2 separate regions of the Homo sapiens genome follow, and region 1 is linked to region 2. The links come from fine-mapping of genetic effects on plasma protein levels. Region 2 holds a variant in brackets. A gene starts in the other region. All regions are shown on their forward strands.

Evidence for each region. PIP is the posterior inclusion probability: the model's chance that the variant is causal. The UK Biobank Pharma Proteomics Project read protein levels with antibody pairs (Olink). The fine-mapping took linkage between variants from a reference panel, not from the people measured, so its PIPs are less certain.
Region 1: FGFBP2 starts here. The variant in region 2 is fine-mapped to the plasma level of the FGFBP2 protein (UK Biobank, PIP above 0.99).

The regions. Positions count from the first base shown.
Region 1 is chr4:15,961,964-15,964,885 of GRCh38, forward strand. It overlaps FGFBP2 (fibroblast growth factor binding protein 2), which reads right to left and starts at 1,212. Exons shown (of 2, transcript NM_031950.4): 1 at 475-1,212. The coding sequence starts at 1,166. The coding sequence ends at 495. RefSeq lists an enhancer at 1,242-2,083.
Region 2 is chr17:68,904,928-68,907,849 of GRCh38, forward strand. ABCA8 (ATP binding cassette subfamily A member 8) reads right to left here. Exons shown (of 40, transcript NM_001288985.2): 18 at 2,813-2,922; 19 at 1,117-1,236. Among named protein-coding and RNA genes, the nearest start is that of ABCA8, 49 kb to the right of the region's middle. The variant G/T (reference allele first, on the strand shown) is at 1,234.

The DNA of each region.
Region 1 (2,922 bases), not on the chromosome of region 2:
CCATGACATAGCACCTCGGCCACTAACAGCTGCAGCAAATGCTTGGTTCATTAGGAAACGTTACCCGGCAGAATTCCAAAGGCCTCGGTCTAACAGTGAGGTGGTTCCATCACAAGGAGATTCTCAACCTTGGCTGCACATTCAAATCACTTGGGGGAGAGTTTTAAAAGTCCACATTCCTGCGCTACTATGTTGGAGACATAGATGGAACGGTCTGGCGAGGGGCCTGGGCATCAGCATTTTTAGAGCTCCTTGTAGGTGATTCCTATGCAACTCCAGGGTCAAGTGCCACTCCGGATGAACTACCTCATCTACACTGCTCTGCAACAGACAGCCTCAAACCCACCCCCAAACACACGCTGAGACTCTGATGTGGTCGCAGCAGCTGTGAAAGTGCTAAGTGCCTCTCACGTAGTCTCTGTATATAAGTATATACACGTAGTCTCTGTATATGAGTAAAGGAAAGGGTATTACCTGTAGGGGTCTTTCACCTGTCACCCTCGGAAGAAGCTGATGAGAAAGGCGCACAGGGCCTGGAAGGGTTTCCAACAATGTTCCCAGGCCTTCTTCTTTGCTTCCTCATTCCCTCCGGGCCTGGGTCCAGGCTGGGTAGGTTTGGCTGTGGGTCGGGTGGTGGGTTTGGCTTTTCCCAGCTCTTCCATCGAGTCCTTTCCCAGCTGTGTTGCTTCTGTGAGTTTCACTGTGGCCTTGGGCCTCAGAGATGGCGTCCCAGCCTCAGGCTGCTGGTTGGGCTCTGGGCTGCCCTTGAGGCTGGAAGTCACCTGCTGCATATGGGCCTGGGGTCCAGCCTCCCTGCACACGGATGGCCTAAGCACCGGGGCCCCCTGGCACGCATGGTGAAGGCGCCTCAGCTCCTGCAGGGCTTGATTCCAGTAAGGTTTGGGGTCAGCAGCGAAAGCCTGGCACATGCTGGGCTGCCCCCTGTACTCACACCAGTAGGTCTGGTCTGTGTTGCGGCAGTCGACACGAAGCCAGACTTCTCCAGCACCTTGCCCCAAGCTGCTGGGACGCATAGTGCAGGAATCTCTCCCTCCAGTCTGGAAATGGAATTCCTCCCCAGTGCTTCCTTGCTTTTGCCTCGGGGCCTGACCCAAAGTCCCCAGGCAGGACAAGGTCACCAGCAGGAGGCAGGGGACGAACTTCATGGCGATACTCCGATAAACTTGCTTGCAACTCTGCACCAGGAGAGAGAACACAAGTGGGACGAGTCACCCTTTAAAGGGTGCTGCACAAAAGACTCTTTCTCTGCAAGGGTGGGGAGGATGTTTTGCAGCAAATGAGAAACATGCCCACAGACCTTAGACACGTAACACTTGGCAAGGGCAGAGCAGCCACCAGGGGCCGCCCACCACAAGCAAAGGGAATGGTTTTCCTGAGTGCCTCAGAGAGATCTGCCCCAGCCCTGTCACGCACAAAGCGCCACACACAGCTTTGGGGCTGAGGGTTTTACAGTTTTCCAACCACAGGGTGCTTGCTCTAAAATTGGCCCTTGTACGGGAACAGCCTTCTTTGTCAACATTTGGTATATGCCAAGGTGTGGCAGTGGTATTCTGGAAAGTGAGGTTTGCAGCTGGGAGTCTGGGCTGCCTCGAGGCTCCCTCCTGCTCCCTGGAATCCCCATCTTGGGGGACCATGGGTTTAGTTAATCCAAAGGAAGCCAGAATTTTATGAGCCTAAGTGTTATGAGATGGCCTAGCAAATGCAAAAAAGACTATGTGAGGTTGTGTGAGGATGTGTGTGCCAGAGGGACACAGAGACACTCCCCCTCCCACCCACCGAGCTGAGAGTCACCTGGTGTGGCCTCTGTGGGGCTGTCCCGCCATCACCGTGGCCACAGGCCACAGTGCTGCAATGTTCACTTCCCTTGTTATTGCATGCCTTACAATTGCACCAACTGAATGATGACGAGGAAGGCATGCAAATATATGTTCACAGTGGGATTCAGTCTATTTTAGACCATGAATTCTATTTCAAATTCAATTGAAATAACACAGTTTTAATTATATCACAGGAAAATATGATTTTAAATATTATTATTATTGTTCTACAATAGAAAAAAAATAAATTGAAAATAACTTTTGATTCTGTGTCAAGAATCATAGTTTGGTATGGTCATAACTGTCTTTTGATGACCCTTCCAGAGGGCACTGTGGAGTGGACTAAAGGTGGCAATTTGCTGTTAGGAATAGGGTTGACGGATGTTGGGGGACTAGTTTGAATGTGAGGGATTTATCTTGGCGATCCCACGTAGGGTAGTTGGTACCTGGCACAGCCTTCCTTCCACCTGGATATCCTGAGTCCTGAGAAGACCTAGTAGGGCTGGAACTAAAGCCAGGCTGAGCTTCGGCAGCCACTGTGTGTGTAGCAGTGAGAGCCTTCCAGAAGAGGGCATCACCCCAGGTGGGGAGCAGAGGAAGCTTCCAAGAAGTGGTGCCAAACCTTCAAGACAAGTCAGTCAATTTGTCAGGTTGAGAAAGGGTAAAGGGCAGGTGTTTTTTTTGTTTGTTTGTTTGTTTGTTTGTTTTGGCCTCATTCTGTCACCTAGACCGGATTGCACTGGTGTAATTATAGCTCACTGTAGCCTCCAACTCCTGGGCTCAATTACTTCTCCTGCCTCAGCCTCTCAAGTAACTGGGACTACAGGCATGGGCTGCCACACCCAGCTAAATTTTAAATTTAAAATTTTTAGGGACAGGGTCTCACTCTGTTGTCCAGGCCGATCTCACACTCCAGGCCTCAAGCAATCCTCCTGCTTCCTTGTCCTCTGGAGTCACTGGAATTACAGATGTGAACCACCACAACCAGCTAAAGGTAGGTTTTTTTTTTTTTTCACACAGTCTTACTTTGCCACCCAGGCTGGAGTGCAGTGGCACAATCTTGGCTCACTGCAACCTCCACCTC
Region 2 (2,922 bases):
TCAGTGAGATTAATCATTATTGAGATATTTGATAGCAGGGCTATAGAGAAATATATAGAATTTTTCCAGTGCTATAATTCAAAGTCACGTCTAAGGGAAAGACCTGATTCTACCTTTAAAACATTCGAAGCTGGGAGTGGACTGAATCTAATAAAACCTGTGCAAAAGCCCAGGCACTTGCCAAATACAAATTAGATCAGTTCTGCCATCCACATCAGTAGTCTGACAGAGGAAGAGTCATGCCATTTTCTGGCCATTGTTTACCTCAGTGTTCCTGTTTTGTTAAAGTAACATCCATGATAAAATACAAATTTCAAGACATATGAAGAAGCGGGGAAATATAACCCATAGGGAAGAGGAAAAAAAATCAGAGTCAGTTACTGATAACGGTCATCAGTCACACGGTCCACATGTTAGAATTAAAATACACAAGTTTAAAAATAACTATGATAAATATGTTACAAGATCTACTGGAAAATATGGACAATATTGAGAGCAGATGAGAAATAGTAAAGAACTGAAACTCTAAAAAAGAACAAATGAAAATGTTAGAATGAAAAAGTGCAGTATCAGAAATAGAGAGTTTATTATGTTCGGCTTCAAAACAGTCTGAACACAAGAGAATAAGTTATTTGTGACCTTGAAAATAGGTGGATAGATAGTGTCCAATTTCTAACATAAAGAAAAAAAAAAGAAAAACCTGACACCAGAGAATCTGATATCTGTGGAACAGTACAATATGTCTAATTAAGACTCTCTTCTTTATTGCTGGCCTACAGGAATTTAATAGTTTCATTTTAAAGTATTGTTTGGGGTTCTTAAGTGTTTTAGATCTGTGGGTTCATGTTTTATATTAATTTATGATTTAGAATAAATGTTTTATCTGAAATTGCCCTTAGAAGCCTAGAGCTAATATGAGTGCAGTGAGCCTTGGATGTAGAAAAATGGATTATTTTTAACTACAAAGCAATGTTGACAGGGATGCGTTTCATTTTTACACAAGCTTGTCTAAGAAGAGCCTTAATCATGAACCCCACATTTTGTAATCACATCTTTGGAACAGTGTGTTCTTGAAATATGTGCTTTTACATAATAATTTTCATGCATTTTATTTACCCGATTCATTAATTGTAGATTTTCCTTCTAGCTTCAGGAATACTTCATTCAAAGTTGTCATGGAAACACCATAATTCTCAATTCCTAGGTCAGGATAGCTATCAAGATCCTTGTAAA[G/T]TTCTAAAGAATACATATACAGCAGTGAATTAAAACAAGAATCACAAGTGAACTGAAGACAATTTTTCAAACTAATAAGCACAAATCTATGAAACTATACTTGTGATATGTCAAAAACATTTGAAAATTAACATTTCATAATAGATCATCTTATTCTGCAAATTCTATATATTATTTTCTATTTTACATCATGTGTTACAACCCAAATATTACTTTGTCAAACATTAATTTATATTCATTTGCATTTCTATTAAAGTTTAATCTTAGTTTTTTCTGACTTCCTTTTAAAATTTAATTAATTGTGAGACTCTGGGTTTTTCAACTCTAAGCCTAATTAATTGAAAAGTCTTTTCTAGAGAACAGATATAAATGGGAGCCATTTATGTTCTAACTGACAAAAGGAAAGGAATTAATTTTTTGAGAATTAATTGGATGGTGTAGAATCTTCTGTAGTTTAGAAAATATTTGTTAAAGAGAAGACATAGAATATAAACCATTAAAAAATTTTCTGTTTCTAACAATGGAAGAAAAAATTCACAAGACCTAACAGGCAGAGAATGTGGAACTGAATCAGGGAATTTTCCTGGAATTGTGACAGTGATTATTCGCTCTAGCAATTTTATATCTATTCATTCTTTAGTTCGTTCACCAAAATATACTTACGCATCTGTCATTGTTCATGAAGCAGTGAACAGTGCCCCTGCCTGCATGGATTTGAATTACAGTGGTTAAATCAAGCTTAAATAAAAACCTAATTCTAATACTAGGGTGATTACAGAAGTCCTGAGGCTTCCATCTGGAGCTCCTGCTTGGGCAAAAGGATAGGTTAAAAGCTTTTTGTCTTGACTAGAATACCTCATACAGAAAGGTAGAAAAGAAGTAAGATTTAAGCTAATAATGAGTATTATGCATCATTCTTCATTCCACCTAAAACGTCTACAAATTTTCTTTAAATTATAATTACTGTTAAAAAGTACTAATCAGAATTTGCGTAACACTTTCCTGATGATTCTAAGGAATGCTTGTGTTGTCACCATAAAATGTGTATTTGAATGAATGTATATGTCTTTGTTAACCACATATACAGCAAGGTTAATTGTTTCAACCACTAATGTGGGCCCTTATAGTGCCCCATTGTTAAGGAACAAGTTCCCTGAACAACAAACATAGTTAGTAAACTTTTATGCGTTAGCCTGAAAAACCCAAAGTTATTGCAAAAGTCTCACCGAGACAGATAGCCACATCACAGGGCTGTTTAATGTAGTGCATAAGCCAGAGGTTTTCAACCATTTGGGTTTGTGTACATTTATGAATACTAGAATATTATGTTACACACTACTAGGGAAGAAGGACTAAAAGAAGCCCTCTAAAATGCCCAGGCATTACAATACAACTATTAGAATGTAATTCTATTTCCCACTATACAGAAAATAATTCAGTTATTGTACTATTCTTTTGATTATGTTTCAGTACCTGAGCATACTGTAAGACATTGATAAATGTTAGTTGTAATGATAATAATTATGATGATGATGACTATTATTCACATATTTTATTTCACAGTGTTCATGCACATTACCTGGAAATTTATTTGTTCTTTCTAAGGGTAATGTATAAATAAGTTTTCCTTCGCTTTTGGCTGATAATTTGGCATCAGGGATGTGCTGTTTAACAAGTGATGTTATGTTT